2 separate regions of the Homo sapiens genome follow, and region 1 is linked to region 2. Evidence: fine-mapped expression QTL. A gene starts in region 2. The other region holds a variant in brackets. All regions are shown on one strand. Distances are between the middles of the regions. Region 1 has its middle 20 kb from the start of ARPC5. Region 2 holds the start of ARPC5 (actin related protein 2/3 complex subunit 5).

Region 1 (5,372 bases), 20 kb before region 2:
TCTTGAAGTGAAAAAAGTCTTGTTAATAATCAGACACCTAAATTCTAGTTGATCACCATAACATGTATTTTTTCTAGGCAATATACTTCTCTAAGTTAACCTCATTAAAATGGGGCAATAATACCTATATTCATTTATTCACCAAAAGCTGCCTAATACTTCAATAAATATAAGGGACCCCAATTATGCACAAGGTTTCATAAAGTGACCAAAGATAAATAATCCATGGACCCTAACCTAGCACAACCTATGTATGAAACACACATTTATTATTTTGTGTAATAAGAATCTCATTTCTGAGACCTTTTGGTCCTTACACTCCATCTACAGAGTTACAGTGAAAGTCACTATATTAGTAAAATGTGATCCAGACTAGGTCTCAGTTGACTGATCTAGAGGTTGAGTCTAGACTCAAGCTGGATCAATCAGAAGCCTTCCCTGGTGTCAGGCCTCTGAGCCCAAGCCAAGCCATCGCATCCCCTGTGACTTGCACATATACGCCCAGATGGCCTGAAGTAACTGAAGAATCACAAAATAAGTGAAAAGGCCCTGCCCCGCCTTAACTGATGACATTCCACCATTGTGATTTGTTCCTGCCCCACCTTAACTGAGTGATTAACCCTGTGAATTTCCTTCTCCTGGCTCAGAAGCTCCCCAACTGAGCACCTTGTGACCCCTGCCCCTGCCCACCAGAGAACAACCCCCTTTGACTGTAATTTTCCATTACCTTCCCAAATCCTATAAAACGGCCCCACCCTTATTTCCCTTCACTGACTCTCTTTTTGGACTCAGCCCACCTGCACCCAGGTGAAATAAACAGCTTTATTGCTCACACAAAGCCTGTTTGGTGGTCTCTTCACACAGACACGTGTGAAATTTGGTGCCGTGACTCGGATCGGGGGACCTCCCTTGGGAGATCAATCCCCCGTCCTCCTGCTCTTTGCTCCATGAGAAAGATCCACCTACGACCTCAGGTCCTCAGACCGACCAGCCCAAGAAACATCTCACCAATTTCAAATCCGGTAAGCGGCCTCTTTTTACTCTCTTCTCCAACCTCCCTCACTATCCCTCAACCTCTTTCTCCTTTCAATCTTGGCGCCACACTTCAATCTCTCCCTTCTCTTAATTTCAATTCCTTTCATTTTCCAGTAGAGACAAAGGAGACATGTTTTATCCGTAGACCCAAAACTCCGGCGCCAGTCACGGACTGGGAAGGCAGCCTTCCCTTGGTGTTTAATCATTGCAGGCACACCTCTCTGATCATTCACCCATGTTTCAAAGGTGTCAGACCACGCAGGGACACCTGCCTTGGTCCTTCACCCTTAGCGGCAAGTCCCGCTTTTCTGAGGAAGGGGCAAGTACCCCAACCCCTTCTTTCCTTGTCTCTATCCCTTCTCTGCTTTTCTGGGGAAGGGGCAAGTACCCCAACCCCTTCTGTCCTTGTCTCTACCCCTTCTCTGCTTTTCTGGGGAAGGGGCAAGTACCCCAACCCCTTCTGTCCTTGTCTCTATCCCTTCTCTGCTTTTCTGGGGAAGGGGCAAGTTCCCCAACCCCTTCTGTCCTTGTCTCTACCCCTTCTCTGCTTTTCTGGGGAAGGGGCAAGTACCCCAACCCCTTCTCTCATTGTCTCTACCCCTTCTCTGCTTTTCTGGGGAAGGGGCAAGTACCCCAACCCCTTCTGTCCTTGTCTCTACCCCTTCTCTGCTTTTCTGGGGGAGGGGCAAGTACCCCAACCTCTTCTGTCCTTGTCTCTACCCCTTCTCTGCTTTTCTGGGGAAGGGGCAAGTTCCCCAACCCCTTCTGTCCTTGTCTCTACCCCTTCTCTGCTTTTCTGGGGAAGGGGCAAGTACCCCAACCCCTTCTCTCCTTGTCTCTACCCCTTCTCTGCTTTTCTGGGAGAGGGGCAAGTTCCCCTCAACCCCTTCTCCTTCACCCTTAGCAACAAGTCCCACTTTTCTAGGGGGCAAGAACCCCCAATCCCTTATTTCCACACCCCAACCTCTTATCTCTGTGCCCCAATCCCTTATTTCCGTGACCCGACCCCCTTCCCACTTTTCGGGAGGGCAAGAACCCCCGAACCCCTTCCCTCCATGTTTCTACGCTCTCTTTCCTCTGGGTTTGTCTCCTTCACTATGGGCAACCTTCCACCCTCCATTCCTCCTTCTTCTCTCCCTTAGCCTGTGTTCTCAAAACTTAAAACCTCTTCAACTCACACCTGACCTAAAACCTAAATGCCTTATTTTCTTCTGCTATGCCGCTTGACCCCAATACAAACTCGACAGTAGTTCCAAATAACCAGAAAATGGCACTTTGAATTTTTCCATCTTGCAAGATCTAAATAATTCTTGTTGTAAAATAGGCAAATGGTCTGAGGTGCCTGACGTCCAGGCATTCTTTTACACATCAGTCCCTTCCTAGTCTCTGTGCCCAGTGCAACTCGTCCCAAATCTTCCTTCTTTCCCTCCCGCCTGTCCCCTCAGTACCAACCCCAAGCATCGCTGAGTCTTTCTAATCTTCCTTTTCTACAGACCCATCTGACCTCTCCCTTCCT[C/T]CCCAGGCTGCTCCTCTCCAGGCCGAGCTAGGTCCCAATTCTTCCTCAGCCTCTGCTCCTCCACCCTATAATCTTTTTGTCACCTCCCCTCCTCACACCTGGTCTGGCTTACAGTTTCGTTCCGTGACTAGCCCTCCCCCACCTGCCCAGCAATTTACTCTTAAAAAGGTGGCTGGAGCCAAAGGCATAGTCAAGGTTAATGCTCCTTTTTCTTTATCCCAAATCAGAAGTGTTTAGGCTCTTTTTCATCAAATATAAAAATCCAGCCCAGTTCATGGCTCCTTTGGCAGCAACCCTGAGATGCTTTACAGCCCTAGACCCTAAAAGGTCTAAAGGCCGTCTTATTCTCAATATACATTTTATTACCCAATCTGCTCCCGACATTAAATAAAACTCCAAAAATTGGAATCTGGCCCTCAAACCCCAAAACAGGACTTAATTAACCTCACCTTCAAGGTGTACAATAACAGAAAAAAGTTGCAATTCCTTGCCTCCACTGTGAGACAAACCCCAGCCACATCTCCAGCACACAAGAACTTCCAAACGCCTGAACCGCAGCAGCCAGGCCTTCCTCCAGAACCTCCTCCCCCAGGAGCTTGCTACACGTGCCGGAAATCTGGCCACTGGGCCAAGGAATGCCCTCAGCCCGGGATTCCTCCTAAGCCACGTCCCATCTGTGTAGGACCCCACTGAAAATCGGACTGTTCAACTCACCTGGCAGCCACTCCCAGAGCCCCTGGAACTCTGGCCCAAGGCTCTCTGACTGACTCCTTCCCAGATCTTCTCGGCTTAGCGGCTGAAGACTGATACTGCCCGATCGCCTCAGAAGCCCCCTAGACCATCACGGATGCCGAGCTTCAGGTAACTCTCACAATGGAAGGTAAGCCCGTCCCCTTCTTAATCAATACAGAGGCTACCCGCTCCACATTACATTCTTTTCAAGGGCCTGTTTCCCTTGCCTCCATAACTGTTGTGGGTATTGACAGCCAGGCTTCTAAACCTCTTAAAACTCCCCAACTCTGGTGCCAACTTAGACAATACTCTTTTAAGCACTCCTTTTTAGTTATCCCCACCTGCCCAGTTCCCTTATTAGGCTGAGACACCTTAACTAAATTATCTGCTTCCCTGACTATTCCTGGACTACAGCTATATCTCATTGCCGCCCTTCTTCCCAATCCAAAGCCTCCTTTGCGTCCTCCTCTTGTATCCCCCCACCTTAACCCACAAGTATAAGATACCTCTACTCCCTCCTTGGCGACTGATCATGCACCCCTTACCATCTCATTAAAACCTAATCACCCTTACCCCACTCGACACCAATATCCCATCCCGCAGCACGCTTTAAAAAGATTAAAGCCTGTTATCACTCGCCTGCTACAGCATGGCCTTTTAAAGCCTATAAACTCTCCTTACAATTCCCCCATTTTACCTGTCCTAAAACCAGACAAGCCTTACAAGTTAGTTCAGGATCTGCGCCTTATCAACCAAATTGTTTTGCCTATCCACCCCGTGGTGCCAAACCCATATACTCTCCTATCCTCAATACCTGCCTCTACAACCCATTATTCTGTTCTGGATCTCAAACATGCTTTCTTTACTATTCCTTTGCACCCTTAATCCCAGCCTCTCTTTGCTTTCACTTGGACTGACCCTGACACCCATCAAGCTCAGCAAATGACCCAGGCTGTACTGCCGCAAAGCTTCACAGACAGCCCCCATTACTTTAATCAAGCCCAAATTTCTTCCTCATCTGTTACTTATCTCGGCATAATTCTCATAATAACACACGTGCTCTCCCTGCCAATCGTATCCGACTGATCTCTCAAACCCCAGCACCTTCTACAAAACAACTCCTTTCCCTCCTAGGCATGGTTAGCGCGGTCAGAATTCTTACACAAGAGCCAGGACCACACCCTGTAGCCTTTCTGTCCAAACAACTTGACCTTACTGTTTTAGCCTAGCCCTCATGTCTGCGTGCAGCGGCTGCCACTGCTTTAATACTTTTAGAGGCTCTCAAAATCACAAACTATGCTCAACTAACTCTCTACAGTTCTCATAACTTCCAAAATCTATTTTCTTCCTCATACCTGACGCATATACTTTCTGCTCACCGGCTCCTTCAGCTGTACTCACTCTTTAAGTCCCACAATTACCATTCTTCCTGGCCTGGACTTCAATCTGGCCTCTCACATTATTCCTGATACCACACCTGACCCCCATGACTGTATCTCTCTGATCCACCTGATATTCACCCCATTTCCCCAAATTTCCTTCTTTCCTGTTCCTCACCCTGATCATGCTTGATTTATTAATGGCAGTTCCACCAGGCCTAATCGCCGCACACCAGCAAAGGCAGGTTATGCTATAGTACAAGCCACTAGCCCGCCTCTTAGAACCTCTCATTTCCTTTCCATCGTGGAAATCTATCCTCAAGGAAATAACTTCTCAGTGTTCCATCTGCTATTCTACTACTCCTCAGGGATTATTCAGGCCCCCTCCCTTCCCTACACATCAAGCTCGAGGATTTGCCCCCACCCAGGACTGGCAAATTAGCTTTACTCAACATGCCCGAGTCAAGAGACTAAAATACCTCTTAGTCTAAATAGACACTTTCACTGAATAAGTAAAGGCCTTTCCTACAGGGTCTGAGAAGGCCACCGCAGTCATTTCTTCCCTTCTGTCAGACATAATTCCTCAGTTTAGCCTTCCCACCTCTATACAGCCTGATAACAGACCAGCCTTTATTAGTCAAATCAGCCAAGCAGTTTTTCAGGCTCTTAGTATTCAGTGAAACCTTTATATCCCTTACGGTCCTCCGTCT
Region 2 (5,372 bases):
TCTTTAAAAAGCAATTACAATCTGTTTATTTTTGTAAAGGTTTAACTTATTTTTCAAACCTTTGCTCAAATTCAGCCTGAGTGGTCTCCTCTAAAAACACACACAAATGATTTCACTATCGTTTGAACTTACTGTATCTTACCATGCAGCATTATCATAACTACATTATAGGGCTATTTTTTCACGTGAAATTTTTACCTATCAAACTACATTATAAACTCTTCTATGTCAAAGATAGCAAACAGTTAAAATATTGATTTTTTTTTGCAACTGCAGAGGATTTTACTAAGAATAAGATATCAGCAGAGATCACTGTGTTGTAGTCTGCGACTCACCTTCACTGCCTGACTCTTGGTGTTGATAGGGGGGTTCTTCAGAGCTGCCTGTAGGGCAGCTGTCATGTTTCCTGTGATGGAAGTTAAGGGTGTAACAGCAAAGGATGGCCCCCAGGAAAGCATTATAACCACTGGTTCTTATGACTTGATTTACATATAAAAAGAAAATTACTTTGGTCACTATGTTCAATACTGGAAATTCAATGTGTTGGTTTCCAGGATGTTAATCAAAGGCAAAATATCAAAAGCAAAATAGAACATTAGACTTTTTTTTAATAAAGCAAAGACTGTTTCACCCTTGGTTCTAACTATCAAGTGAACACCTTGATAGTCTTTCATTTCCCAGTGAGATACATATGCAAACATTACCTAGAGTGGTGTTAAAGAAATCCTAAAATATATATCAGAATTATTAGTCCCCCAAATGAAATAACCTATTATCAACCAAAATATGTCTTTTCCTGTGATTCTAATTGAAAAAATAAAGACCAAACTTTTGCTAGAACCATATTCTGTATTATCTGAAATGCTGGTAGAACATGCTGGCAGATTAGCAATCTGAATGATACACATTAGCAATCTCTCAATATTGATGAAAAGAGGCATCACAGAAGATGTAATAATTCATATGTCCCTTAGGTGGCAGCTTAATTTTTTGCTTTAGATATTTTCTCTCATATTTCACAAAGGTTATTCAAACTGTGTTAGACCATACCTATTAAATTCAGGCTCTCTTTGAAAGCACTAGTGAGTTAGCAAGCATGAGAAACAGAAGGCCAATCAGACTGTCAGAATGTACAAACATTCCCCTAAAAGGAAAACCACAGAGTTCACTTGTTCCTCCAACTCTAGTACCCCACCACTAGGGCTGTCTTTCCTGGCTGTATGTAACGGTAAGAAGAGACAGTATCTTTATATTTTAAGATGAACTGATCAAAAAGCAGATCCACTGATATGGATACAGCAGTACCATTTAAAAGTCACCACAAATTACCTAAAATACACTGGGGTTTCATAAAACACCATCTATCCATCACAAATAATGTTTTTAGGAAGCATGTTCACCATTTATTTTCTAAAGAAAAAGTTCTTACACAAAATCTCTGGTTGACAAGCTGTTATTTTCAAGGCTGCAGGGATTTCTAGAGAAGCATGCCTGATGTAGATTAGCTCATTTTTTATAACTCCAAGCACTTAAGTATTTAAATAATGCAAAAGAGCAACAGCTAATTAATTGTGAAAGTTGTGGCAAAGCACTATCTATATATTGATAAATGTCTAATGCTCTATTTAGGTGCCTTTAAAAAAGGATATTGTTGCCATTAAATATTTTCACTCTCATATTTCCCCACTATAACAGGACATTGTTGAGAGTCTTCCTTATGAATACACCCAAGAATTAGAAATGCATACAAATTCAGTGTCTGAGATTTTCTAAAACTACAGCTTCGGTTTTTTTGCAACATTTACATTTTTCTAAAAAAGATGTAATGCAAATGCGAAGCCAAAGTTATGAATATTCAAATATGCAAAAACAGAAACCGGGAACTGACTGCCATATTTTAACTAAAATGGAAACAATTTTAGGATTACAAAAATGATTCTGCTTTATACGAATGACTCATCTTCTATCTTATTCATTGGGGTTTATTTTAAATATTTCCAAGGATTCTCCACACGCATTCCCCGTTGTTTTTTCTATTGTCCTTTTCTTAGCAGGTAAAAGGCTCCAAGCTTCCTTCTAGGAGTTTTGTATTTTTTGTATTCATTCCCCTCCCCCAGTTAACAAATTCTGTACAATGTATATTTTGCCAAATCCCCTTCTTCTTCTTCTTTTTTTTTTTTTTTTAAAAAGGCCAATGGGCTGAAAGCACAGGGACCCTCAATTTTCGAACAGTCCCATCTCCCCCCGCCCCCCGGTAAGGAATAAACTACCTTAACGCTACCAATAACAAAAACACAACAAAAAACAAAACCACTAAGGAAAGATGCAGGTTCCCCACAATCAGAAATTTCTGGAGCTAATGTGACCCCAGGAAATCAGAGTTCTAGGAAGAAAAACTAAGGCGCTCGGCACCAGCCTTCCCCACCAGCCGGGGCCGCCTTCCCCAGCGCCGCGAGGGCGCGGCCGGCGGGACCAGTTCCCGAGGCAGGCAGGCACTCGGGTGCAACCTGAGGAATCTGGGGGCGTGGAAGGCGCGCGGGGGAGGGCAGGCTTCCAAGAGTGGGACCCTCGCGTCTCCTGCCGACTGGGTAGGAAACGGGGGCTTCCCCCTTGCCCTCTCAGAGCGGGCGATCCCAAAGAGACAGGTTAAGCCGCAGGTTGAGAGGGCAGCTCCGCGCCGGTGCCCCGCGGATCCTGCAGGCTCCCGGGTCCCAGGAGAAGGGCGGGCTGGGCTGGGCTGGGGTGGGGAGGGCGGTGAATGCAAGGATATTGCCGCAGGCAGGAGTCCACCTCGCCCTCGTCGGGCCCGGCCTGGCCGTCGCCCCCATCTTCTTCGTCCACGAACTTGTTCTCGTCATATTCATCCACGTCCACCTTCCGGAAGCGGGCCGACGACACTGTGTTCTTCGACATCCCAATCCCGACCAGCGGCAAAGGCCTCTTCTTGGCGCTGCCTCTACCTCAGCAAGCCCAGCCCAGCAACCCACTACCCGGCGCCTGATTCACTTCCCTCTTCCGCTCTGAGGCGTCGCCGACTGCCGCGGCTCGGACCGTTCTGGGCCTGCGCGCTAGCCCCGTTTCTTCCTCCTCAGGTTCGCGCTCCCTTGGCGCCTCCCACGCTGCCCCTGCTCTTCCACGGAGAGCGCGCGCGAGGGAAGGAGCGCGCAGGACACAGCGCGCAGGCGCGGGCTCTCCGCAGGCAAGGGGCGGGGCTGGGCGAAGGAGGCGGGGGCGAGAGGGAGGGCCAAAAGCTGGACCGCGGGCAGAGGTAAGAAGCGATTGGTCGTCCGATTGCGTCACGTGATTCTCGGTGGGGGGGTTCCCATAGAAACGCTTTTCTGCGGTCCAGTCTAGGGGGTCTCAGATTGGCGGGGATGGGCAGCAGCGGCAGGTGGCCTTGGCTTTTGCTGCAGCCGTCAACGACCTATCATCGGGGTCCTGCGTAAGGTCCGGCTGGCTGGGACTTGGCTGTGGGTGGGATGGACTGGCTGCCGGACCGAGTGCCCTGCAGTTGGTAGGAGTATGAGGCAGAGTGATGCACACCCGGGCGCCCAGCATCGTTCTAATTGCCGGAGACATTGCCTCAGACTGTGCGCTGCTAGAGGCTGCGTTCCTGAGCAGGAAGCCCGTTTCCTGGGATTGGAACTACCCTTCTTGGCCAGCGGGAAGTCCCCAAGGACGGAGTCGAAAGGTCAAATCTTATCTGTCAGTGCTGTGTGACAGCATCGCAACGGGATCTGCAGAACCTGAACTCGGTATCAAATCTATTGGGAGGGAGGGGAACGTGTCCGGGCAGGCGCTGGGGTCGGGTGGCAAAACTGGGGTGAATTTGTAGAATTTGGGAAAGGGTCATTGACATCTTAAAATAGGTGGTCGTTTGGAGCAAGAATGCTCGAAAGGGGTGAGGGTAGGTTAGGCTCTCTAGTGCTGGGGGAAAACAAAATGTGGAAGGATTGGTGGAAACCAGACCTTTAAGATTTATATTATGATTTGAGATTTATATGATTCCATCTAGGCCAGATTTAAAAAAATATTTGACATCCCCATTTCTGGAATGTAGGAGATAAAGGCACTAAGACGAAGGAAATGGTAGTTGTGCTGTGTGTATTACACTGAAGAACAAATATTTGCAGGATAAAATTAATTTGGACATTTGGCTGGACACTGCTCGGTATGGGTCCAGTTTAGTTGGACCTCGAGCAGAAGACTGGCTGTTGCCCTGTTGTGTACCACAATCTTTGGTTTCCAGTGCTGTGTTGAAAAGAGCACTAGGCTTAGAATCAGAAAACTCAGGCTTAAGTGTTGACTCTTCCACTCATAATGTTTGAACGAGACATGTCACTTAAAATTCTGTCTCAGATTCCTCATCACTGAAATGGAGCTAATAATGTGCACTTTACAAGATTGTTCTTAGGATTATATATCACGAAAGTGTTTCCAAGCTCTAAAATTCTACATAAATGTAAAATGCATGTTGCTTGTACCATTGGTTTTGGGACTAGTCTTATAAATTTCTTAATGATATATGGTGTTTTATCTCCTTCCTAGAAGAGATGGAAAGATTCTGAAGGGCAGAAACAGTTTTTCTTTTGTATCTTCCTTCCATATGACAAAAAGCTAAGCATGCAGAAGGGACTCGATACATGCTTGATGAATGAATGAAATGTGAAAGACCGTACAGTTTGAGAATCATACTGAGAATAATAAATCAGAAGAGGGAGAGAGATCTCAAAATTAAATATTTGTTGGATATATACATGTAAATACATATGTCCAGTCTTCTTTAAGTTCAAAAAAATACATATATAATGTGTGTATATTTATCTATGCAGTATATTATATATAAATAGAGAGTGGGAGAGAGACCTCGAGAATGGAATACATCCCTTTTTCTTGGGAAGAAGCAATGTGGTGTTTTTCTGTTCCCAATTAAACCACTCTTCTATAAGTATATCATTTAGGTGATAGAAGTAACATTGTTTAAATTAACATTCAAGTTATGAACACACACTGGTAAAAATTCTCTTAGGAATGCCTTAAGACAGCAAAGGAAAAATTTTTACCTGTTGGCAATATTTATTTTAAAAAGCCATATACCAAAGTATAAAATCATTACTATGGTGAATGGCGTTATATAACTTAGAATAAAGATTTTACAATTTTTTTTCAGTTTCAGTCTTTGCTAACTTTAGTAGATGCTAATCAGTATACTTTAGCTGTTAAAGGTGATTGTACTTTTTCTTCTTTTAAATCAAGATTTTTCTTTGAAGAGAAAATCGAACATTAGAGGCACTATTGACAGCAAATGGAAACAGGGATTCAAGAGCTAATATATCTCTTCTCTTACATTTCTATTCTTTTGTATTGCCTTA

What was found. PIP is the estimated chance that this variant, and not a neighbour inherited with it, causes the effect. A credible set is the group of variants that fine-mapping cannot tell apart.
Region 1: its variant is the best candidate, but not a certain one, in a credible set for the expression of ARPC5 in T cells (TOPMed, PIP 0.68).

What each region holds. Positions count from the first base shown.
Region 1 is chr1:183,612,768-183,618,139 of GRCh38, forward strand. No RefSeq gene overlaps it. Among named protein-coding and RNA genes, the nearest start is that of ARPC5, 20 kb to the right of the region's middle. The variant C/T (reference allele first, on the strand shown) is at 2,552.
Region 2 is chr1:183,632,747-183,638,118 of GRCh38, forward strand. ARPC5 (actin related protein 2/3 complex subunit 5) reads right to left here and starts at 3,037. Exons shown (of 4, transcript NM_005717.4): 1 at 2,771-3,037; 2 at 336-408. The coding sequence starts at 2,913. It also overlaps a transcript of RGL1 not described here. RefSeq lists enhancers at 2,233-2,733, 2,731-3,010 and silencers at 2,321-2,539, 2,491-2,550, 2,631-2,680, 3,161-3,320.